5 separate regions of the Homo sapiens genome follow, and regions 2, 3, 4 and 5 are each linked to region 1. Evidence: fine-mapped QTL for protein levels in blood plasma. A gene starts in region 1. Each other region holds a variant in brackets. All regions are shown on one strand. Distances are between the middles of the regions.

Region 1 (5,000 bases):
TATTCCATCTGGTGTTCATGGTACCATTTGTAATAACCGTTATAGTAAGCCAGTAAATCCAAGTCAATGTTTCCCTGAGTTCTGTGAGCCATCCTAGCAAACTAATTGAACCCGAGGAGGAGGGTCAGGTAAACCTGATTACAGCCGATGGAACAGAAGTATAGGTGACAACATGTTACTTGTGATTGTTGTCTAGAGGAGGGCAGTCTTGTGGGGCTGAGCCCTCAACCTGAGGCTATCTCCAGGTAGATAGTGTAAGAACTGAATAAGATTAGAGGACACTCAGCTACTGTCCACTGAAGAATCTGCCAGAGAGAACTGACTGCAGGCGGGAGGAATCCCTACACGCATTTTGGTGACCACAGGTCACCGAAGTGATTTGTGTTGAGAGTGCAGTAGGAAAAAACTGAGTTTGGTTTTTTGTACATCATAAGAGCTGCTCTCTGCATTTGAGTCTGAATATGCTCTCTCAGACCCACCTCACAACCTGTTCACTGAGTCTTAGGAACATCCAAGGAAGGAAGGGAACTGGAACAAGCTCTGACACTTTCAAACAGCTGGAATGCATGGTGTGCACGCAGTCAGCCTGAGGAGGTGTGGAGGATGAGCTAAGGGCTCAGAAACCTTTAGGGGAGCAGCTTTTAACTTCGGAGGAGTCAAAGACCCTTTGAAGAATTTGATGAAAGCTTTGGCTGGTCTCTCCAGAAAAAAAAATGCCCGCTTACATATACAGAATTTAGAGTACACTTTCATGGGGTTTCCCCACCCCCTGAAACCTATCAATGCAACTTCATTGGGATGAATGGATCTCAGATTGAGGATGCTTTTCTGCCTTTTCTATCCCTCCCCAAGCAAAGCACTGGTCTCAGCCTTCAACCATCCCCAGCATGGTGCATTCTCTCCCCGGGTATGTGAGCTCCTCTCCCCCTCACAAGTATCAGCTTGTATTCACAATATTCCCAAGTATTCACTGGAGGAGCCAGGCCATTCAAGCGTTCATCTTGAGGTGAAGTCTGACCCCCCCACCCCTTGTCCCATTGAGGAGGCTCTGACTCAGCCTCCTCTCCCCCTCCCTGAGGAGACACTTCCAGTTTTTCCTGCTCTTTTCTCTGTTCCTCCACCCACCTCTCCACCCCATTTCCCACTGGCCTTCAGGAGTTTTCCAAGATCCTTCCCTCTTCCGACACTTACCCCATCTTTTGGGGGATCCAGCAGCCAGCCCAGCTCTCCCTGTGCCTTGCTTGTGTCCATCAGAGTAACTGAAAGTGGGGAGAAAAGAAGTCTGTCACCTCTGGGGGAGGAGGTGCCCCTGCAGCCCACATTAATCATTCTGGGGCCTCAGCCCCAGGCTGCAACATCCTGTTCCTAAAAGCTGTGACTTCCTGAGGCTTAGGGGAGAAAAAGGGCTCAGGACTGAGGAGTGAAGAGCTCCAGGGATTTCACTCTTCTTTGTGTGTGTGAAGGAAGGCAGGTAGAGTGGGACAAGGGTTGGGGCGCTGGGTCTTTGACCAAAGTCAATGCAAGAAGAGCAGCCCCACGAGACGCTCAGTTACCCAGGCTGCTGCGTCCTGGGACACCCATCAGCTGCAGGATTGGAACGCGTGGAGGGCAGGAGGAGCTCACCTCTGCTAGCCAGGAGTGGGCAGGGTGGACCGGGGACCTCAGAAGGGGTTTCCTGGGTAGGGAGGCTCACCTCCACTGTCCGAAGCCTGCTTTGGCCTGACCTGGCCAGTGATCAGAGCCGTGAAGTGGGGATAAGAGGCACAGCTACCTGCCTGGGAAGTGGGGGGGAGTAAGGCCGGAGAGGGTGTTCCAACTTTCACATGGAATATTCGACTCGGACAACTGGGAACCCCTGTGGCGTCAGTCCTAACCCTTCTCCCGGAGGCAGCTCCCTCTGTCCCTGGCCTAGGTTGGCAGGAGGCGACTTCCCACCTTCAACTTCCAAGGGCTCAGATCTCTGGGGTGGGCACCTGAAGCTGGGACTGTCTGGGAATGCAGGCAGGGGTGCGGGTGCAGGTGCTACTTCCTGGCAAGGGTCCGGAATTCCCTCCCCACTCCCAGGAGCAGATTGCTGGCCTGCGGGAGTGGGGGTGACTGACCCGGGAGAGCAGCCGCTTGGGGTTAAAGACCAAAGATGGGCCTGGCCAGTCGATAGCCTGGCGGTCGGGCACAGCGAGAGAGCTGGCGAGGGTCTCGGGGAACATGGCCCCTAGGAATGCCGGCTTCTGCAGGGGGGTGCTGGCCGGGCCCCGGGAAGGGGCGGGGCGCGGGGGTTGGGGGCGCGGGGGCGGGGGTCGGTACCTTCCTTGGCGCGCGCCCCCGGGGGCAGCGGGGCGCAGAGCAGCAGCACCAGCCCTAGCCCCAGGGGCCAGCGCCGCTCCATAGCTCCGGGCCGGGACCTGGGACAGTGGCCCGGATGGCAGCGCCAGGTTGCAAGGGACTAGGAGAGCCGGGCGGGCCGGGCGGGGGCGGGGGGCGGGGCCAGCGCCGGGGGCGGAGTCCCGGCCTCACCTGGTTCACCTCCTTAAAGGGACAGTAGGGCAGGAAAGAAACTTGCTAGACTGGTAATCAAATTCAAGAACCGGAGGCGTCTTGACCCGAATGAGACTGCGGGCGCCGCCTAGTAGGTGGGATTAAGAATTGACGAACCTTTTCCCAATTCTAATCCTAAACTCAACCCAATCTTGATCCAGCTTTTAACCTAATTCTACCTCTGACTTGAATTACACTCCTATATTCCTCTTTCTGTCTTTGTGCAGGCCCCAGAGCTGGGTAATAGGGCCGGGGAAGGCAAGGGGTAAGAGTCATATCTTCACCCTCTAGCAGGGGAGGCTTAGATGACCACAATGCAAGGTGGGGTACAACCTGCAGTGAAGCATCTGGAGATTAGAAGAGGAAGCAAGCCCAGTCATCGGGGCACATTAGTTGAGTCTTCAGGGAGAGCTGGTGTGACCTGGGTTTTCAGTGGCAGAGATTGGGAAAGGCACCAGCAAGGGCCTGAAGGCAGGGAGCCTCAAGGTGCGCCCAGGGAGTGGTGAATGGACCAGTTTGACTGCTGGGGCGCAGGATTTGTCTTGGGAATCAGGGCAGAAAGGCAGGTGTGGGCCAGGGCTGGGTAAACAAGAAAAGGAGTTTGAACCTTGACATGCACTTACACAGCAGACATGAATATCTGGTTAAGGTTCCAGCCACAGGTGGCAGGGAAGGATATTTTAACCCATCTTAGTGGTGTCAAACCACGTGCCCTCTCACTTTCTTGCGGACTTCCTTATATTCTTTTTCTTTTTTGAGATGGAGTCTCGCTCTGTGGCCCAGGCTGCAGTGCAGTGGTGCAATCTTGGCTCACTGCAACCTCCGCCTCCCTGGTTCAAACGATCCTCCTGCCTCAGCCTCCCGAGTAACTGGGATCACAAGCGTCAAGCGTGCACCACCACACCCAGCTAATTTTTCTATTTTTAGTAGAGACGGGGTTTCACCATGTTGGCCAGCCTGGTGTCGAACTCCTGACCTTAGGTGATCCCTCCTGATCTCAAGTGATCTCCCTGCCTCTGCCTCCCAAAGTCCTGGAATTACAGGCCTGAGTTACTGCGCTCTGCCGAGACTTTCTTATATTCTATTTAGTAAATGTTTGTTCAGTTTCTGCTATGCATGCAGGAAGCTCTAGAAGCACCTAAGAACAGAAGGACAATGTCTTGCCCTATATAAGCTATTAATTTGGGGATGCTGGGGGTTGAGACATAAATAATTGCACAAATGATTGAAATGGCGGGCAGGAGTGGACCCCAGGCAAGGTACACACAGGGATCACAGTAGCTCAAAGGGGAGTGATGCATTTACTAAAGAGGCTGGGGGTCCACTCCTGGCCCCTCCTTCTTTCGCTCCATCCCATCTGGGTAAATTGTTCATAATTTTTCTATCATTTACATTGTTGCACATTTCGGTACTGTGAATGAAGGGAGGTGGTGGATTATAGGTGCTTTTTCTCATTTTCAAAATGTAATGCTTCTCAGGTTTTTTGTTTTTTTTTTTTGCTTTCTTATGCAGATACGTATATGACAAACACGGCCCATCAGTTCTTGGCTCAGACTATCCTTATTTGCATAAATAAATGTAATTCATGTACATTGGTTAGGAAATTCATGTTGAACATACAGAAACAAAATGGGAAGTAGAACCCTCTGCCCTCCAACACTCTAATTTCTGTTCCCCAAGTTAACCACCATCAACTGTTTCTTGTAAGTCCTCCCAGGATTGCTTCCTCGCTGTGTACACACCATCGTGTATTTTTCCCTCCCTCTCTCCCTCTACTCCCACACTTACATGCTTTTAAAATGTGTATACAGAGGGGCCATCTGACACACATTGCTCTGCACCAGAGGCCTCTTTTCTAATGTTAAAGACTCCAGGAAGGAGGAGGAGGCTCACGCTGGCTGGCGGGGGTCAGAGCTTTGTGATTTCAGCAGGGAGGAATGGGCGAAGGGTACAAAGCCAACAGAAGGGGGGAAATGGAGCAAGCGTTGGACAATTGCTGCTAGGACATAAGCCAGACTGTGGTGAGGTAATGCATGTGCTTGCTGCTGCAGTTTGTTAAAGTTACAAGACCCTTGGGACTCCAGAGGGTGGGGGGTGGGGGGTGGGTGTGTGGAGTGGGGGAGACTGCTCCATGCAGTGAGACATGGAGTCTAGAACCCTGGAAAAAAAAGTCTTGCTTTTTGTTTTAGGATAGGCTCTTTATCCTGGTCTGAAAGTCTCTGCATATGGGGAATGAATGTCCACTTTCTGTCTCCTTTCAGGATTATCTTGATTTGACATTTTCTGGTTAGTTTGTCATGAGAGGAGGCACATCTTCAAGTTTAGTCTCTGTTCTTAACTAGCAGTACAACTTTTGTCAAATTATTTATGTTCTCTGGACCATGGTTTCAGTTTCCCTAGACCTAGATGATTTCTGAGGCTATATTCAGGGATGGTCTCAGAAAATAAAAAGCTAGCAGGATTTT
Region 2 (5,175 bases), 480 kb after region 1:
TCCTCAAAGAACTGTAACAGGAGAGGAAACATGGCTTTACCAGTATGATCCTGAAGACAAAGCAGAATCAAAGCAATGGCTACCAAGAGGCAGAAGTGGTCCAGTCAAAGCAAAAGCAGATGGGTCAAAAGCAAAGGCCATGGTGACAGTTTTTTGAGATGCTCAAGGTGTTTTGCTTGTTGACTTTCTGGAAGACCAAAGAATGATAACATTTGCTTATTACTGTAGTGCTCTGAGAAAGTCAGCCATAGCTTTAGCAGGAAAACACCCAGGAAAGCTTCACCAGACAGTCCTCCTCCACGATGGCAATGACTTTGCCCATTCCTCTCATCAACTAAGGGCAATTTTGAGTTTCAATGGGGAATCATTAGGCATCCACCTTAGAGTCCTGATTTGGCTCCTTCTGACTTCGTTTCCTAATCTCAAAAAATCTGTGAAGGGCACCCATTTTTCTTTTTTTTTTGAGACGGAGTCTCGCTCTGTTGCCCAGGCTGGAGTGCAGTGGCTCGATCTCGGCTCACTGCAAGTTCCGCCTCCCAGGTTCACGCCATTCTCCTGCCTCAGCCTCCCGAGTAGCTGGGACTACAGGCACCCGCCACCACACCCAGTTATTTTATTTTATTTTATTTTTTGTATTTTTAGTAGAGACAGGGTTTCACCATGTTAGCCAGGATGGTCTCGATTTCCTGACCTTGTGATCCGCCCGCCTCGGCCTCCCAAAGTGCTGGGAGAAGGGCACCCATTTTTGTTTGGTTAATAATGTAAAAATACTGTATCTACATGGCTAAATTCCTAGGACCTTCAGTTTCTTAGTGATGGACTAAATTGCTGTTATCACTGCTTACAAAAGTGTCTTGAACTTGAAGGGGCTTATGTTGAGGCAACATTTATTTTTCAAAAAATTTTTAATTCCATTATTCCCACAAACTTCTTGAAATTCCCTCATATCTTTGGAATAATCCTCCCATTGGAAACAATAATAAAAGCTCAACAAAATATAGGAAACCAACTGAAGACTCAGAAAAGTAAACAACATAAACAGGACAAAAGGACTATAATCCTTGATGAACAGAAAACACAGGACATGAGTTGTATATTCGCTATTGCTTTTTACTTTCGGGCATTTTTCATTTTACAGTGCAGGGTTACTGAGGCTGAAAAGGAAGTGTCAGTCTTACTGGTTCAAGACTATCAAACCAGGTGGAGCTCAAAGGGCAAAGTTTCAGACATGAAGAAACCAGACAAGTTAATCTAAAATTTTATATATGAATTCCCCTAATGTCACTGGCTGATTCCTAAGCTATGCATGCAATAGGAGAGACCTCAAGGAAACTTGTAGGAAATAGTGGCCAAAGAGCTAAACAGTTGAGCAGTCATTTCAGTGGTTATATTGTTCTGAGAAAAGCAATGGAGTTTATGCCCCAACAAAAAGAAACATTCTAATAAACACTCCATGATTTCAGTTGACACATAAGAAAATCCCTGACATATGAAGAAGCATATCTTATGGTTTAAAGACTATGTTCTTGGAGAAAGATCAAACCTTAAATGGGCTAGTCCTAACAAAGCCTAAAACTAATATTTGATAGCATCAAAGTAATCTGCTGGTACTTTATCTGCCCACTTCCCCAAAAAATCCTCTTGAAAGAAAATAACATCAATCAAAACCTTTATATTTTTTCATCCACAATATTCTGCATTGAATCAAAAATTAGGAAAGCAGTTAAAAAAACAGAATAAGTTGCCAATAACTCAAGAGAAATAACAGAAAATAAACACAGGCACAAGTGGTTCAGATACTTGAGTTCTTAGAGAACTTAACTGTGATTCATACGTTAAGAAATTAGAAACAAGGCTGTGGAATTTCAGCATAGAAATAAAACTCATAAAAAAGTAAAATGAAAAATTAAAAAAGAAAAATAATAATAATTAAAATTGGTACTTAATAGATTGCTTTAATAGCATATTAGACACAAAAGACCAGAGAATTGGTGAAGTATAGCAAAGGTAAGTAGAAAGTATCCATACATAACATAAGAGGAAAGAAAACATGATACACAAAGAGATCAAAAGATACAGAAAGAGTGTAACAGGATTATGAGATAGGGTGAAAAGTTGTGACACATGAGTAATCACAGTCCCAGACGGAAAGGAAGGAGATAATAAAACAAGCAAAATGTTATCAATTAATGATTTGAAAAACATCAAACCACAAGCTGAAGAAACTTTATGTTCCCCGAGCAGAATACACAGAAAGAAAACTACATTGAGACACATCACATTCAAACTGCTGAAAACCAAATTCATAGAGAAAATCTGAAAAGCAGCCAGAGATAAAGGATACTTTTCATTTAAATGAACAAAAAATACAGCTAATTTTTCAAAAGAGTGATGAAAATAAGAACACAACAGAATTCCTAAAAGATGAAAGAAAAAGAAAAATCTGCCAACCTAAAATTCTATACACAAGAAAAATATTCCTCAAAAATAAAGGCAATGTAATTTTAGATACACTAAAGCTGAAAGCATTTTCCACTAGAATATAACTACTAAAACTAATTTTTTATGAAAATTATTCCTCATAGAAGT[A/C]CAGTGCTGTAGGAATTAATAGAGAACACTGAAAAGAGTAAATACATAGGCAAATATAAATGAATATTGACTGTTTAAATAAACAAAATGCCTTATGGAATACAGAAGCATATAAAAAATAAAACAGACAATAGTACAGCTGCAAGATGGAGATAAACTTAAAATTTTGCATTGAGAATACATAGAAGTAATAATTTAAGGTAGGTCATAATAAATCAATAAGGTGAACTGTAATATCTAAAGTAACCATTAAAATAATTTAAAAAATTATAATTCAAAATATTGAAGAAAAATTAATAGAAAGTGTTGAATTCGAAAGAAATCAAGAAAAGAGAAAATAACAAAGAAGAAATGGAACAAAGAGAAAACTGTGCAAATTGGTAGACTTTAACCCAATTTTTTTTTTTTTTTTTTTGGAGAAGGAGTGTCACCGTTGCCAGGCTAGATTGCAGTGGTGCGATCTTGGCTCACTGCTGCCTCGGCTCACTGCAACCTTGCTTAAACCCAATATTTATAGATTGCATGTTTGTGTCCCTCCAAAATTTGTATGTTGAAATTCTAACCCCCAATGGAATGGTATTAGGAAGTGGGCCTTTGGGAGGTAATTAGATGTAGATGATGTCATGAGTGTGAAACACTCATAATGGGATTAGTATCTTTATAAGACGAGAACGAGACTAGAGCTCCCTCTCTTGGCCATGTGAAAATACAGTGAGAAAGGTAGCTGTCTATAAGCTAGGAGGCCAGCCCTCACCAGACATTAAATCTGCTGGTTTATCTTTAAATGTTTGTTGTTTAACCACCAGTCTATCACATTTGTGTCACAGCAGCCCAAAACAACTAAGATACCAACTATATAAATAATTATACTAAATATAAATGGATTAAAAATCCAATTAGAAAAAGAGTTCATTTAGAAGAGAAATATTGAAAGTGAAAGGATGGAAAAAGGTACACCAAGCAAACATTAACCAAAAGAAAGCTAGTATGGCTTATGTACAATGGGCAAAGTAAACATTACTGTCAGCAAGTGTTACTGTAGATATAAAACAAATTTCATAATGATAAAAGGATCAATTCAGTACAGCAATACAAAAATTTTAAATTTGTATCCTTAATAACTTCAAAATTTATAAAGCAAAGTTGACAATAATAAAAGAAGAAAAGACAAGTCCACAAGCATAGTTGAAGATTTAAGTACATTTTTCTCAGTAATCTGAATAAACAAGTGCATAAAAATCAGTAAGGATATACATGATTTGAATAACATAATTAACAAATTTGACCCTGTTGACACATATGGTACATATACACCTACCAACAACAGAATATACATGATTTTTAGTGCGTGTCAAACATTTTCTCAAATAAAACATATACTGGGTATGAAGCAAGTCTCAAGAAACTCAAAAAGATGTAGAATATATTCTCTGATCTTAATGGAATTAAACCAGAAATAAATAATTTTTATTTATTTAATTAGAAAATTCCCACGTTTGGAAATTAAGGATCACACTTCTGAACACCCCTTAGGTCAGAGAAGAAATCACAATGGAAATTAGAAAATATCTTAACTAAATAATAATTAAAATACAATTTATCAAAATTTGCAGGAGGCAGCAAAAGCAATTACTTAATAAAGGAATTACTTAATAAAGGAAAACTCTATAGCTCTAAATGCATACATTAATAAAAGGGAAAGACTGAAAGTAAACTATTTCAAAACATTAGAAAAAGAATAACAAATTTAAAGTAAATCAGAGAATATAATAAACATAAAAGCAAGAATCAAATTTTAAAAAATTTAGAAATTCAGTAAAACCAAAAGTTGGTTTTAATGAACCAAACTAAGAATGATCAATAAAGAGACACAGAGAGAGAATCCATTATAATTATCAGGGGACATTATTGCAGTCCCAAAAGACATTAAAAATATAACAAAGTGATATTACAAGTAATCATATGCCAATAAATTTAACAAACTCAGATGAATTTGCAAATTGTTTAAACAACATAATTTATCCAAAACAGCAAGAAGAAGCAGAAAATATAAATAATCCTATACATAAAAAAAATGCAGTCCAAAATCAAAAACATTCTGCAAAAAAGTTTAGTCCCAAAAGGATTTTTATGGTGAATTTTTCTAAACACTTGAGAAAAATATAATACTAATATCATAAAACTTCTTCCAGAGACTAGTAAATGAAGAAACTCTTCCCAACTCATTTTTATTACACCCAGCATAACTTTGATAGCAAAATCTCGTAAGTACATTATAAGAACAAAAACCTAGAGACGAATATTACTCAATGAACATAGATTCAAAAAGTCTAATGGTGTGAAATGCCTTTTCAATAAGTAGTTCTTGATTGATTAGATGTCTATATAAAAACCAATGAACCCTTAACCCATACCTCATATCATATACAAAAAATACTCTGAGATAAATTATAAAACTAAATGTGAATGGTAGAACTATTAAGCATAAGGAATCTTTTTGTGACCTAGAGGTAGGCAAAATTCTCGTCAATACAACTCAAGTCCTAAGCATAAATGTTTGGATTTATTAACAATAAAAATTAGATA
Region 3 (5,175 bases), 430 kb after region 1:
AGGCAGCTAGAAACCTAAAATAAAAGAAAACGGAACAACAACAACAACAACGAAAATAAGGTGGGTTGGATAAGCTTCGAAATGGTTACTGCTTATGCAAAGGTGCAGGCCCCAGATCTTTCCTTTTACTTGGGAGAAAACAGACGCCATTCAGTGAAAGTCAACATATCCTTACTGGACACTTATTCTGTGAGGCACTCTGGGAGATAGAAATGCTATTATGGTCAGTAAATCTAGAGAGGAAAAAAGACAAGAAAACAACTATACCAAAATTGGCTACGAATCAGGTGCAAGGGCACATAAAAGAAGCAGCAATTATTTCTGATCAAAGGATTAGAGAAGAATGTGCACAGAAGGTGACACAGAAACTCAGCTTAGAAAAATGTATATTTGCGGGGAGATAAAGGGGAAGGTATTACAATGTGAGGCTGTATAAGATTCCAAAGCACAGAGATATGAATGTGAAAGGCTTAATTTGAGAAAGACAAAATGTTCATAGTGACTGAAACTTGTTAGCAGAACTTGCATAGTGCTAGCTCTAAAGAGAAGTTTGGGCTCGGTTTAGAGGGACTTTGGCTGCCATACTAGGGAGTTTGGATTCCATTCTACAGTGTGGAGGAAGATTTTTTAAAAGCACCATTTAGTAAACACTGTGGTTGCCTCCTCAACATCTATTCCCTACACTACCCCTATTGTCCTTTCTAACCAAATCCATTTTTTTTTTAAATCAGATAATCCACCTCTCCTTTATGAGATTCAGGGGACAATGAATTCATCTCCATTTCCAAGGATAGATCTGTATTAGCTTAAATCAGGCAGGCTAACTCATACTTCTTGTGCTTCCATGACAGACTCTTTCTGGGTTATACGTAATAAATATACATAAACAATATTATACTTCATTGTCCAGCATATACAAGAGGCAAACACAAATCAGAAATATTATCTTTACCAGTGGTACATGAGTCCATTTTTTGTCAAATAGAGAGCAATTGCTGCAGTAATTGCAGTTTATCACTAAGCCAGATGCAGGGGTTACTCATACATATGCCTTCTAATTGTGGGCTACTATTAATAGTCACTGGCCTCCTTCTTAAATTATTTTCAGTCATGAGCTTAACTTAATGTGGTACCATATATTCTTTCTTTTAAGGACCTTAAGAATCTGGGAAGAATTAGCCACACTCTAATTTAGGAACAGAGATGGATGAATCCACCTATGGACATTTACTGGTATGAGTCACTGGGGAAGTTCACTAAGTCACTATTTAAGATGATCCAGAACAGGTGTCTACAGCTGCCTTAAGAATGAGTACTATGGTGGTGATGAAAATGTTCCTCTCAGATGTCCAACTGCAGGGGGTGGGTATGAAATTGCCAGATGGCCCCAGCTGGTGTGCTCTGGAATCCTTGGCGCCAAGGCCATGCTGCCAGGGGCTTCTCCAGGCTGGTGATCAAATGTAGTGAGGATCCTCAGGCAGGCCCATTCCTGGAAGACATGGGACTCTCCCGATAGGTGAGTTTGGCTCAAGGACTCCTCATGGTCCTGAAAGAAACTCTCTGAGACCTGTACTTCAGTGGAAGCCTGTCTTTCCTTTGCTGTCTCCTTCCCAAGGGTTAAACCTACATTGCAGTCTAATGGTGGCTCTCCCGGCCTTCTCTGGCTCCCTCGACATTTTCTCTCACAGGCATTTCCTTTAATAAATCTCTCGCATATCTGATCCTGTCTTGGCTTTTGCTTCTTGGAGGACCCAGAATAACACAAGTACTGTCATAATTATATCTCCTCACTTTAAATCTCTCAAGTGTAATTACTAAAATTGTGTTGTAGTGGAAGTAAAAAGCAAGGTTACTAACTTGAGAGTATCTATGAAACACTCACCCATTAAGTTTCATTCTTTAGTACATTTATAATAACTTTTATTCCAATTGTAGCATGGTCTATCTCCAAGGGCAAGTTCCTGCCTGCGTCTTCATTGAAAACAGTGGAACTTTGAAGCAATGGGGGAGTTTGTTGCTTCTCTTGACAAGCGGCCAGCCCTAATTCAGAGTTATAAAAGTTTTCATATTCTGCTTTTGGCATATCTGTAAAATATACTTGGGCATACATTTTTTTTTTCTGTTTGGATCATAAGTGTGTGAAACATACGTGGTAAGAGCCAGTTATATTCCAATCACAGAGGATGTCTTGGAACACATCACTGCCACTCCAGAGGTACTGAAACTTTCTTCCTCTAGTAAGGAACATGGCTGGGGTGGGGGTGAGAAGAGATATTCTTACATTTATAAACTGTTTCTCCCACCACCAGACCAGACATAAAGTTTGATTTTGTCCTGAAGATTTCAGTTGTCTTGGAGCCAGTGGAACTGAGTTAGCCCAAGAATGAGAGTGGATGTCCTTTTTCTCTTTCTGCCTTTGAAATATCAGGTTCATTGGACAGGTGCTCAGTAGATCCAATTTTCTTTAATTGCACCTACATCAGTGTAATATAAATGTCTTCATTCACAATCCCACAAGGGTTGTAGATATCAATATGCCGGGGGATAGTGTATGGGAATTGAGGGTCATAGTAGGTCAATACTATATAAGAAAATTCCTACAGAGAGTGAGTCTAAATCCCTACTCCTATGGGACCAGCGACTATTATTGTCTATTTATTTACTTATTTGAAAATGTAAACAATTATTTCCCAGTGGACTAATTACAAAGTTCCTGTGACATCAAGATCATTCCTTCTCAAGGCTTTTCACTATATATTGAGACGTGTAGTCTTAATTTCATTTTGGTTTGCCCCAAGACTTCCACCAAGTCTAGGGGATCTGTACGGAACTATCCTTTCCCAAGGTACATCATGCATACTTTCTGCTATTATTTTTTTTTTCAGTCTGTCCCTTGTGGTCAATCAAGAGAAATGCAGACTTGAATCTCTATAAGAAGAGCAAAGGTTCTCCCTTTTTAAACCTTTGAACTGA[GA/G]AAAAAAAAAAAAAGCAGCAGCTCCTGCCATCCAGAAACTTGTCTGGCGCTAACAGCGAGGCCATATTGTTCTCCCATTGTACAAAAACAATTTCAGAAAACATCAACATCAGATAAGGTCACTCAGAGACCGTCATAAAGTAAGGCACATACACGATCACCATGCAACCCACAAAATACTGATCATCCTTCTGTTATCTAAAATGAGTAATTGCACGTTTTAGAAACCAATCGCAGCTTTATTCTCATTTTATTTATGTTTGTTTTTGAGACAGAGTTTCACTCTTGTTGCCCAGGCTGGAGTGCAATGGTGCAATCTCAGCTCACCACAACCTCAGCCTCCTGGGTTCAAGCGATTCTCCTGCCTCAGCCTCCTGAGTAGCTGGGACTACAGGCATGCGCCACCATGCCCGGCTCATTTTGTATTTTTAGTAGAGACGGGGTTTCTCCATGTTGGTCAGGCTGGTCTCAAACTCCTGACCTCAGGTGATCTGCCCACCTTGGCCTCCCAAAGTGCTGGCATTACAGGCGTGAGCCACCGCGCCCAGCCTTTATGCTTATTTTAGTCAGCTCTCCTTGTATATGTATTGAGATCGTAGTTGTAGAATTGTTTCTGGTTCTTGACAGTATGTCATCCAAAACAAAGTCTCCCTTCTTCAGACACTTCCCAAAACTATCCAACCAAAGCCCACAGCCTATAATAGGTTCTTTCTGACACCTTTTTACTGATATACCCACAGTTCTCTATGGTGTGCATTTTCCCTAGCTGCAATGAACAACAGATTCAACTTGTTTAATTATAGGTGTGTTTCCATTGGTCTTTGGCTGTAGGGCATTAATAATATTATGTACTATTAGTGCGTTAATAACATTAATAATGCCCTATAGCCAAAAGTACTTTTACCAGTGCTAGAGATCCACCAGGCTTTCTGCTAAAGGTCACTCTAACATTACGGACACAAGTCAGTTGTTTGTCTTTTAATGCTTTTGCCAGCTGAAATAGTTTATCTCAGAGTTTTCTATGAGGATCTGAGATTTAACTCTGCTCTAGGTGTTGAGAGCAACAAGCTCATAGTGCCAGTTGTCTTGTGGTTAAATGTCAAAAGCCTTAATTAAGGCTTATTATTTTCTCCTTTGGAATAGGTCGGCTCCAAGGCTACACAAGCAGCAAGAAGAAAAGGAAAAACTCTGTTTTATTAAAGCTCCACTTGCCTATCTACCTTGGTGGAGGGTCAAGAAAAGGTTTATAACCTATTTGCAGGTTTTAGGCTCCTGTTTGCAGCACAGAAACCACAGACAATAGGTAAGCCTGCTGGGCCCTGGCCTACGGGGTCTGTTCAGGAAGAAGAGGGGTCTTCTCTCTAAACCTGTGAGATCTCTTCTAGACTCTTTTATAGATTGTTTTTATATTGTATGTTTGATCATTTTGTCCTCCCCTAACCCCCTTTGGGCACTATCTCAGACTTTAAATATTCTAAATAATTTTGGCAGTATGTGAAAAATGAATTTTATGTCACTAAGCGATTCATGGAAATATTTTTTTAGTACCTACATGTACAGATTTCTTAACCAATTATGTATATTTGAGTTCCTAAGAATAGAAGTAACTTTTTAATGACCTTCAGGTACACATATTTGTATTAAAATAAACCTTGGTTCCTAACTGTCATCATTGGTCACTACATTTTTTTTTTAAGTTGCAGTTGCTTCCCAACCTCTATTTATCTTTCATTTATTTACTCATCCCTTTATTCTATTTATTTCTAATATAATGAGCACCTATGAAACGCACCCAGTCTCAGACTAGAACATCAATAACTTAAGCTACTCAAGCTTTCCTATCAAAGAAATGCTTCTTTATAGCACTGAAATGCACAAGAATCCAAATGCATAGGAAGCATTTCTTAGTTGTCTTGATTGTGAGGTAAGTTGTTTTTTTGTGTAGTTAGAAGAAAGATCTCTGAGAAGTTGAAGATCACCTTCTGCCCACTCCCTATTGAAGACTGACTGCAATGATGTGGGTCAAAGAAAGAAATCATTTTAAGAGTAGAAGCCAAGCAGGAGTACAAAGGCTTTGTAAGGAGTAGAGAACAGAGGAGGGAAATAGTCTTGAAAGAAGGGATAGAGTCTGCTACTTTTGTTGGCAAAAAAGAGTCAACATCTAAGGCCTAGTTACCTGTTGGCCTGTTAGGTACATATAT
Region 4 (5,175 bases), 490 kb after region 1:
ATACTTGCGGGGTAAGAGACAAGGTACTAAGGATCAATTTAACTTAAGTATGCTAAATTAAATCTGTTATAAAACTAGTTAAACATCTTAAAAATTAGGAATTATATGCGTTAAACCTATTATAAAATTAAAACATCAGAACTAAGACATGTAACTTCCAAATAAAAGAAAGAAAAAAATGGGCAAAGAAAGAAAGAAGGAAAAAAATGGGTGGGGGGAGGGGCAGGGAAAGAAACATAAAAGGCAGGAAAAATAAAAAGCAAATAATAAGATGGTAGAAATAAATCTAACTTTGTATTACTAATCACAATAAATATACACAGATTATTCAATGACAAGTTATAAATTGTCAAACAATATTTTAAAAATCCAGACTTTTAAAAAATCCAAATAAGTTTACTACATATATATTTAAAACAGATTCTGAAGAGTTAGAGTCAAACGATAAAAGAGAGATAAATGAGGCAAAAACCAAAGAAACCTTGATTTGATCTTTGAAAAAAATACGATTTTAAAACAGAAAACATTAATAGGTATCATAATGTAAGGTCCCTACATTATGATAAAATGTTCAATTTACAACAATTCACTGATAACATAGCCTCAAGATATATGAAGCAAAAATATATACATTTATGAGAAATTATCAAATCCACCATCATGGTGAGAATATTTAACATACCTATTTCTGTAATTGGCAACTCAAGCAAATAAAAAGTTAAAGATATGTAAGATTGGGTTGTATAATTAAAACAGTTGATACACAGAACATCATGTAATTACAGACTACACATTCTTTTTACGCACACAAAGAAAACTTACTGGGTTTTAAAGCTAGCTTCAGCGAATTTAAAAGAATTGGCACTATGCAATCTCTGACTACAATATAAATTAGGCAACTACAACTACAAGATAACAAAAGAAACTTCATATGGCCAAATGGAATTTAAAAGGTACATTTATAAAAAATTCATGTCTCAAAGAACAGACTATAAGGAAAATTATAAATAATTAAAGCTACATGGTCAAAAATAATCATATCAAAACTTGTCAGATGTAGCTAAAAAGTAGTGATAGAAATGTATAGCTTTAAAAGCTTACATAGGAAGAAAAGCTCAAAATTAATGAGCTAAGCATATAATTTAAAAGCTTAGAAAATAAATCACAGAAAAAATTCAAAGAAAGAAGAAAGTAATAAAATAGGTAAAAATTAGAAAAAGACATAAAGCTTTTATGTTGGTGTTTGAAAAACTAATAATGTAGACCATGTTCTGGAAAAATTAAAACAAAAAGAGAAAATGTACACATATTAACAATGAAAAAGTGGCCATATCAATAGATAATGGAAAGATTTATAAACAGAATGAGAGGATTTTATAAACAGTTTTATTTTGTTAATCTTGAATATATATATATATATATATATATATATATATATATATATATATATTCATATATAAACACTTCATCCTTGAATAATCCAGGTTTGAACCGCGTTGGTCTGGATTTTCTTCTGTCTCTGCCACCCCCAAAGACAGCAACACCAACTCCTCCCTTCCTCCTCATCCTTAGCCTACTCAATGTGAAGATGACAAGGAAGACCTTCATGATGATTCACTTTTACTTAATGAATGGTAAATATGTTTTCTCTTCCTTATGACTTTCTTAATAACATTTTCTTTTTCTCTAGTTAAGAATATAATGCATATATAAAACATGTGTTAATCAACTGCTTATGTTACTGGTAAGACTTCCACTCATTAGTAGGCTATTAGTATTGAGTTTTGTAGGACTCAAATGTTATATACAAATTTTCAATTCTGAGGGGGGTCAGTATCCCGACTGCTCCATTGTTCAATGGTCAAATGTATTTATATATATTGAATAAACATATACATGTACGTATACTGATACATTCATGTATATGTGAAATTGTTAAATATCTTGGAAAATACAATTTACTACAACTGACTCCATAGGAAAACCTAAATAGTACTATAATCATTAAAATCTTCTGAAAAAATACACTCCAAACACAGATGATTTTACAGGTGATTCAAGGAAATATTCAAGGACCAGATAATCCCAATCTTGCACAAATTCTTCCAAAGAATAGCATAAGGGAGAATACTATTCATATTATTTTATGATAATACCAGCATCAGAAAAGGATAGTACAGAAAAGTATAATTACATGCCAATCTTAAATCACACGTATAAATATAAATATCCAATGTTTACCTTTTGTATCTATATCCACATACAGAAATTACTACATATTTACCACAAAAGGTTTATTCCAAGAATACAAAATTGGTTTAATATCAGAAATTAAATACTATACTTTACTATGTTGTTAATATAGTTAAAGGAAAAAAAGTATATATATTCTCAACAGCTACAGGAAAAGCATTTGAAAAAACATCCATTTATAATAAAAGTGCTTACCAAAAGAAGAACAGAATTTTCTTATGATGGGGAAGACATTTACAAAGTAACTATAGCAAATGTCATTTTTAAGTTGACATAATGAAATATTTCTCATTATTATCTTAAGGACAAAACAAGATGCCCTTTATTACTTTTATTCAACAGTGTACTGGAGCTCCTAGTCATTGTCATAAGACAGAAAAAATAAATTGAAGGTATGAGAATTAGAAACGAATAAACAAAATTATCATTATTTTCGGATGATATGATTGCCTATGTAGCAAATCTGAAAGAAGCTACAGG[T/C]AAATTTAGAATTATTAATTTTCTCAAGTTTGATTGATATATAATTAATATATAAAAGGCAACTGAATTTCTGTATGCCAGCAACAATAAACTACAAAATATAACTTTTACAAAAGAAAATGCTTACAATAGCAGTAAAAATATGACGTGCCTAGAAATTTAACAAAAACTGAGCCAAAAGAAAACAATAAAAAATAGTACAAAACATTGAAGATGACTTAAATAGTGTCATATACCATGTTCATTGAGGAAAAGGGCCAATGTCTTAGAAATAATTTCTGCCCAAAATAATTTATAGAGTGCAATGGTTTGAATGTGTCCCTCAAAAAGCAGGTGTTGGAAACTTAATCCCCAATGCAATGGTGTTAAGAGGTGGGCTTAATGAGAGGCCATCAGGTCATGACAGCAGAGTGAATGAATTAATGCCATCACTGTAGGAGTGAGTTCATTATAAAAGGCGGCATTCACCCTCCTTTTACACTCTCTTTCAGCCTTTCTCTGCCTTTATGCCATGGAATGACACAGTAAGAAGGCTCTTTCTTGCCAGATGCCAGCCACTCAATCTTGGACTTCCCAGCCTCCAGAACTGTGAGCTGATAAATTTTTGTTCCTTATACATTACTCAGTCTCAGGTATTCTGCTATGGTAGCACAAAACAGACTAAGACACAGAGTTGATCCATTATCAATCAGAATTCCAACAGGTTTATTTGCTTGTTTGTTTCTTGTTTTGGAGAACTTGATAAGTTTATTTAAATATTTATATGGAAGGTCAAAGGTCCAAGTAAAGCTAAAACACTCTTAAAGAAGAAGAAACAGGTGATAGGACTTTTCCTACCAAATTTCAAGGCTTTTAATAAAACTATAGTGGTTAAAAATTATTTAGTATTGAGGCAGAGTTAGACAAATAGAAAATAAGAATGGGGGCTTAAAACGAATTCATGCTTATATGGAAATCCTGATTCATGCAAATCACTGGTGCTGGGGCAACAGATTATCCATATGGAATAAACAACATAAAAATCAGTTTCCATGTGGATTAAGACTAATTGCCAAAGGCAAAACTATAACACTTTTAGAAAACGATACACTAAAATTAATCTATGATCTTGAGAAAACAATTATCAAACAAGAAAAGCTATAAAAGAAAGTACTACTAACTTGAAATTAAATTCAAAACTTAGATTCATTGATAGAAACAGAGAAAGAAACAGATATAAAGACATAGAGAGAAAGAAAACCTCAAAAGCAAATTGGAAAGATGTCTGTGGCATATATAGCTAACAATTACTGCTTCGTACCCAGATTATATAAAGAAAGCATTCCAATGAGTCAATAAAAAAGGTAAACAAACAATCCAATACAAAAATGAAAGAGACAGGAATCAGAATTTCACAAAGAGAAAGCACTGATCAACATATAAAAAGTCAATCTCATTAGTTATGGAAAATGCTAGTTAAAATCACAGTTAAATGCTATTTCATACCTGCCAGACTGACAAAAAATGTAATTTTACAAGACTAAGCTGTGGCAAGCATGTAGAGCAACAAGAATGCTCATCCACTGCTGGAGGGAGTGCAAACTGGTTTAACACTTTGGAAAGTTTAGAAATGACCCAATAAAATTGAATACACATAAATCTTATAACTCCGCAATTCTACTCCCAGCTATATACTCTAGGGAAGCTCCCACACAAGTGTACTTGAATATTAGAGGACATGGGCAGGCTTTAAAGTGGCCCCGATAATCCCTGCCTCCAGGTGTTCATGTCCTTGTGTCACCCCCTTCCCTTCAGTGTGAGTTGGGCCTAGGGACTCACTTCTAATGAATATAAAATGGCAAAAATAATGGGATGTCGCTTCTGAGGTTACAGAAAGAATCTGACTTCTGTCTTTCTCTTTTTCTCTGTGGGAGCCTTCTCTCTGGGGGGAGTAAGCTGCCATGTTGCAACCATTCTTTATACAGAGGCCCATGTGGCAAAGAACTGATGTGTACAGCCAGGGTCAGTGAGGCCAATCGGCCTGCCAGCAGTCATGTGAGTAAGCCTGGGAGAGGTCCTCGACCCTACGCCTAGCCTTGAGATGACTGAGGCCCAGTCAATACCTTGATTGTTGATACAGCTTGTGAGAGACCCTGAGTCAGAGACTCCCAGCTAAGCCCCTCCTGGATTCCTGATCACAGAAACTGTAAGATAGGAGGTAACAGGACTTGTTTTGTTTGTTCGCTTTGGTTTGAAGCTGCTAGGTGTTGGGGTAATTTGTTACATAGCTTATAGATAAATCATACACCTCCAAAAGTAGAAACAATCCAATGTCCATCAGCAGTAGAATGGATAAATTATGTACATTTACACCTTAAATGACGAAAACGAAAATGGAAGGAAGCATGAAAGATGAATCTATAAAACTTAAGAATACGTACAGGATAATGTCATTAATATAAT
Region 5 (5,000 bases), 9.6 kb before region 1:
CTGGTCAGTCACACCTCGTTCACATTCCCAGACAGAGCCGCGCATGGCTCCCACCCCAGCTGCCCGGATGGACCCCTCACTCTCCCCTTTGTGGGTCACCTAATGAGGTGACAAGCAAGAAGCTCATAAGCCTCGGAGGACGTCAATCCTCCTCCCGCCTGGCCTCGGCCCACAGCCCTGGCCTCCAGGATGGGGAGGGCTGTCCAGAGCCCAGGGTGACAAGACAGCGGCACCAGCAGTGAACGGACACTAACAGATAATTGCATCAGAGCCACTGGGGGGCTACCAGTACATAGTTAATTAACCAAAGTTAATTAGGTAGCAAAACACAAGAGCCCTGGGGACAACAAACCCCACATGTGCCCCCAGAGTTGGCCTAGCAAATGTGTCCCTTGATCCCTTCCCAGTGGCATCTCCCAACACACACACACACGCACACACAGGTGTGCACACGCATGTGGGGACACACGCAGGTGCACCCGACTCACCTCGATCCACATCGGTGGCGCGGTCACGCTGCCTCTGCTGCCTCTGCCGCTGGGCTCTCCTGTGGGGGTTGGGGACCAGCTCCTTCAGGGCCCCAGGACCACCTCAGGGGTCCGAGGGACTCTGGCTGAATCTTCCCCAGAAACGGGCTGGGAGTGCAGGATGGGTTTTGATACTAGGGGATGGGAGGGTCGTTGGGGCTGCAGTCAGGGGCTTCTGACCCAGGGCTGGTGGTTGGGGAGGGGGCAGGAGCTGGCACCTGGACCGGAAAACGAGAATCCCAAGCAGCAAGGCTGCACCAAGCAGCAGCCCAAAGATGACGGCTACAATCTCTCCTCCAGTCAGGCCCCTGGACACTGTAGGCACAAAGGGATGAGGAAGTGTTGGGACTCACAGTCCGTAGGAATGAGGGGGGTTAAAGGGCAGGGCCCTGGGTACACCTAGGGTCAGACCTTTCAGTGTGCATCAGGTCGGTGTCTGTCCCCTACCCCCGGAAGAAGGGAGTGTGTGTGCATGTGTGTAGAGGAAGAGGAAAAGTCACTACGTGGAACAGGAGCTGAGTTGCCTCAGTGAGGCAACAGGTGTATGTGTGTTGGGGCAGAGCACAAGATACCCCACCTGGTGGGCTGGTCCGAAACTCATGATCAGGGGAGAAAGGGCCAGGACCCAGTGGGGTCAGCATTCGGACTCTGACGATGTATGTGGTGTCAGGCTGCAGCTCTGTCAGCAAGACCCTGGGTTCTAGAACCATCTGGTACCGTTCTTCATCCTGTGGGTTGGAGTTGCATTAAGTGGGCAGTGCTGAGCCAGACCCGGGTGGATGTGATGGACAGCATCAGAGCACATGGGGAGGGGCTGGAGAGCAGAATGGTTAGGACAGGGTTCTTCATAGACTTTTGTCCTGAGAAAGCCACACAGTGGACTTCGGGTGGATTCCTCCCAACCCACACCCCAGGCTAGGAATGTTGGGGTGTGCCCGGGCATGGACACTGAAGACCATCTCTCAGTAGCATCCTGACCTGGTTCAGCACGTGCAGCTCATAGGTCAGGTTCGCCCCAGGGCTTCGGGGCCGGGACCCCGCCCAGGTCAGCTCTAGTTGCCTCGGTTCTTTCTTCACCAGTCTCAGAGACAGGCCTGACAGTGACTCTGGGGGTCCAGAGGGATAAGGTTGGATATGTAAGGAAAAAGGAAATAACCTTAGTAACTTTTCTATGGCTTCCTGCCCATCAGTTTGTTCTGTGGTCTTAAGCCCTTCTGTCTCCACCAGGTCCCTGTCCCAGCCCCTCTCAGCCTCTCACCTGCATGCCCCATGCTGATGCTGACTGAGGTGCTGGCATGGCCAGAGCTGCCCAGCCCTGACACTCCATTTTGGGCTTCCACATTAAAGGTGTAGTTGGCATAAGGTTCAAGGCCATTGACATGCACTGCAGGTGTGGTGAGCCCCCGGGCCCCC[G/A]GCGAGAAGTGCACGCCCACCCCACAGGGCTGGCAGGGCCCCCCGTCCTGTGCTGTGCCCTGACACTGGGAACACCTCACACTGTATCTGACATCCTGGCGTCCCCCCGTATCTGCTGGGGGTTCCCAACGCAGGGAGAGCTGAGTCCCTGAGGCAGAGAAGCTCAGGTTTCGGGGGGCCGAGGGGGGACCTGTGGGAGAAGAGGAGCCATCAGTAGAAGCCGACCTCGCTGTCACCCGAGCTGCTGATCCCCGGCCTCCACCACCACCCAATTCTCGATGTCCTCTGAAGTCCTCTTGGGGAGATTTGATTTCTACTGGGTTTGACTACATCTCTGCATTCTTCTAGGGAGAGCAGGGTGCCAGGGCAGGGGCTAAAAGTGCCTGACACCCTGGACCATCTCCAATATCTGACAAGCTCTGGAAAAATCCAACCCTGACAAAGTCTCAGCAAAGATCCAGCCCCTCCCTCCAGATGGCCACGCCCCACCCCCTGGACTCACCTGTGCATGCCACCTGGGGGCCCTCCCCGGGAGCTCTGTAATGGCCGCTCTCACAGGTACAGATGGTGGCCCCCTCAGACTCAGCAGTGCTCTGCTGGGGGCACGTGAGACAATGGGGTGTGTCCATGTCCATCCGGTAGGAGCCGCTAGGGCAGGCTGGAGAGAGAACGCAGCAGAGCAGTGGTTCTGTAAATGTTTTTACAGGCAGAACCACCACCACCCCTTCCTGCCCCAATCCCTTCTACTGGAAACATCTCTGCATGTGTGTGTCCGCTGCTCTGGGACACTCAGGTTAAAAACCCACTGAGGCGGAGCACTGGCCTCCTTCTCTGCCGGGGTACTCCTGCAATCCTCCCGAGTGGTTCCTCAGGTTCTCACCGCCTCCGTTCTTACCAACACATGCTTCGCCACTGCCACCTTCCTCATAGCCAGGCTCACAGTGGCACCGTCCTACAGGCACCAGCCACTCGCCATCAGGGCTGCAGTGCATGCGGGGTGCACCTGAGGGCCTGGGGCTGGCCCGCGCGTGGGGCAAGCAGGTCCCCGCCACTTCCACCAACCCAGCGGGGCCAGGCAGAGTGTCTGGGAATTGGGCCAAGCCATTCAGGGTCTCAGGACAGCGCTGGTAGAAGACCCGGACAGACACCAGGGCCACACAGGCACCCGGGTTGTGGAAAGCGAGGTAGAGGCCACGGCGGGTCAGGCGGCCCAGAGAGCAGCGCTCCACATTCAGCTTCACGGAGCCAGACACAAGGTCTCGAATGGTGAAGCTCTGGTCTGCAGCCACCGTGGTTACCTGGGTAGAAGGTGGGGAAGAAAGGGGAGCAATGGCAAAGTCCTGCTTCTTTCCCACATAACAGAAACAATCGTTTGCTTAATACTTTCCACAACCATGAACACTGAGCCTTGTATGTGTGAGGTGCCAGGCTAAGCATTTTATGTGCATTATGCTATTTAGCTCATGCAATCCTCTTATGAGGTAGGATGGCTTATTGTCTCTATTTAATAGATGAGGAAACCAAGGCTAATAGAAGATAAAGACCTTGTATAAGATCACACAGCTACCACATCATGGGGCTAGGACTGGAATCCAGGCATTGGGACTCTACAGTCCATACAATTTCTGCTATTCAGAGGCATTCCCAAACTCAGTGCCAATAACATGATGAGTTATAGAGCATATCGTTATCAATTTATTACTAGTAACAAATTTTACAACATTTTCTCTTTGGAAAGAAACAAGAGCATATCCTATCATAAAATGCTCCTTACTCTTCTGCATCCCAGGATGTTTTTTTGAGTAGGAAAGAAAGGGATGTGCTGGAGAGTACTAGCCTGCAGGGAATTGTCTTGCTACATGACTCCAGTGATACTATGGGAGTGGGTTGCTTATGAACATCGTGGGTATCAATAGGAAAAGTCTAAATAACTCTGTGCTACACTTCCCTCCTCCCCATGGTATCCTGTGATCTCAGTGGATGCTTATAAAAGCCTATAAAATAGATATAGCTGGCCCTATTGTTGTCACTATTTTATGACTAGGCAACAAAAGCTGGAGAGGTTAAATGACACCCCCAAAGTCACGGCACAGCAGAAAAGATACTCAAATCCAGCCCTTCTGATTTCCAATGCCACACTGTTCTTTTTTTCTTTAGAGACAGGATCTTGCTCTGTTGCCCAGGCTGGTGTACAGTGGCACAATCATAGATCACTGCAGCCTCAAACTCCTGGGCTCAAGTGATCCTCCTGCCTCAGCCTCCTGAGTCGCTGGGACTACAGGTATGGGCCACCATGCCCAGGTGATTTTTAATTTTTTGCAGAGATGAAGTTTTGCTATGTTGCCCAGGCTGGTCTCAAGCTCCTGGCCTCAAGTGATCTTCCCACATCGGTTTCCCAAAGCACTGGAATTACAGGCACAAGCCACCATGCCCAGCCTTCAAGCGCCAAATTCTTTTCAAGATTCTACCTCTGCACCCTCTTCCTGTCTCTGCAACCTTCTCTGGCACCCAATAAGGAGCCACCAGGGATCTGCACCAGGACCCAGATGGCATGGAGGGAAGCAGCACCTTCTGGAACAAGGGCCGTCGGAGCTGAATGCCCACATCCTGGTCACTCTCCATGTACAGAAGGTTGAAGGTCTCCTTGCAGCCCAGAGGCCCGGCTCCCCCAGGGAAACTCTTGCAGTCCCGCACGGTGAACTGCAGCTCCACGTGGACGCGGGAAGCCTCCTCCCCGCGGTAGATCCAATTGGAGCGAAGCCAGTGGTCAGTGTCTCTGCGTCCTTGCATTGGGCAGTCCTGGTACATGTACAGGGGTGTCCCATTCAGTATCTGTTGCTGTTCACTCCACTGCAAGGAGGAAATCAGAGTCAGGGACCAGATCATCCCCTGCTCCCCAAACCCTTGGTTTTTAGAGCTGATGGAGAAGCAGCTGTGTCAGAGCCCCTCAGGTTTATGCTACTTGTTCTGCCTCTCCCCACCCCTCAGCTCCAGGACAGTAGACTGAGTGTTTAGGGTTGGGGATTTGTTTGGATATAAGATGGGCAAGACAATAGTCCC

Which allele goes with the higher level. Alleles are on the strand shown, and positions count from the first base shown. The strength of an association depends on the size of the effect and on how common the allele is. Not every link is listed here.
In carriers of allele A in region 2, the plasma level of the protein whose gene starts at base 2,437 in region 1 tends to be lower than with C alone (moderate association).
For the plasma level of the protein whose gene starts at base 2,437 in region 1, allele G in region 3 goes with a higher level than allele GA (weak association).
With allele T in place of C in region 4, the plasma level of the protein whose gene starts at base 2,437 in region 1 is higher (moderate association).

What was found. PIP is the chance, under the fine-mapping model, that this variant and not a neighbour inherited with it causes the effect. The UK Biobank Pharma Proteomics Project read protein levels with antibody pairs (Olink). The fine-mapping took linkage between variants from a reference panel, not from the people measured, so its PIPs are less certain.
Region 2: its variant is fine-mapped to the plasma level of the EPHA1 protein (UK Biobank, PIP above 0.99).
Region 3: its variant is fine-mapped to the plasma level of the EPHA1 protein (UK Biobank, PIP above 0.99).
Region 4: its variant is fine-mapped to the plasma level of the EPHA1 protein (UK Biobank, PIP above 0.99).
Region 5: its variant is fine-mapped to the plasma level of the EPHA1 protein (UK Biobank, PIP above 0.99). The variant lies in the coding sequence of EPHA1. If it changes the protein, the assay may bind it differently, which can mimic a change of level.

The regions. Positions count from the first base shown.
Region 1 is chr7:143,406,420-143,411,419 of GRCh38, forward strand. It overlaps EPHA1 (EPH receptor A1), which reads right to left and starts at 2,437. Exons shown (of 18, transcript NM_005232.5): 1 at 2,305-2,437; 2 at 1,192-1,259. The coding sequence starts at 2,386. It overlaps EPHA1-AS1 (EPHA1 antisense RNA 1), which reads left to right and starts at 1,394. Exons shown (of 5, transcript NR_033897.1): 1 at 1,394-1,467. RefSeq lists an enhancer at 2,509-3,121.
Region 2 is chr7:143,889,544-143,894,718 of GRCh38, forward strand. All of the region lies in intron 1 of TCAF1 (TRPM8 channel associated factor 1), which reads right to left. The region is part of intron 2 of LOC105375549 (a long non-coding RNA gene); the gene reads left to right. Among named protein-coding and RNA genes, the nearest start is that of TCAF1, 10 kb to the right of the region's middle. The variant A/C (reference allele first, on the strand shown) is at 2,590.
Region 3 is chr7:143,838,976-143,844,150 of GRCh38, forward strand. LOC112267988 (a long non-coding RNA gene) reads left to right here. Exons shown (of 3, transcript XR_007060571.1): 1 at 1-4,277. Among named protein-coding and RNA genes, the nearest start is that of TCAF1, 61 kb to the right of the region's middle. The variant GA/G (reference allele first, on the strand shown) is at 2,974.
Region 4 is chr7:143,895,728-143,900,902 of GRCh38, forward strand. All of the region lies in intron 1 of TCAF1 (TRPM8 channel associated factor 1), which reads right to left. It overlaps LOC105375549 (a long non-coding RNA gene), which reads left to right. Exons shown (of 3, transcript XR_007060574.1): 3 at 1,485-5,175. Among named protein-coding and RNA genes, the nearest start is that of TCAF1, 3.9 kb to the right of the region's middle. The variant T/C (reference allele first, on the strand shown) is at 2,734.
Region 5 is chr7:143,396,816-143,401,815 of GRCh38, forward strand. It overlaps EPHA1 (EPH receptor A1), which reads right to left. Exons shown (of 18, transcript NM_005232.5): 3 at 4,509-4,790; 4 at 2,836-3,238; 5 at 2,443-2,598; 6 at 1,786-2,130; 7 at 1,506-1,633; 8 at 1,105-1,255; 9 at 746-842; 10 at 489-547. Among named protein-coding and RNA genes, the nearest start is that of EPHA1-AS1, 8.5 kb to the right of the region's middle. The variant G/A (reference allele first, on the strand shown) is at 1,941.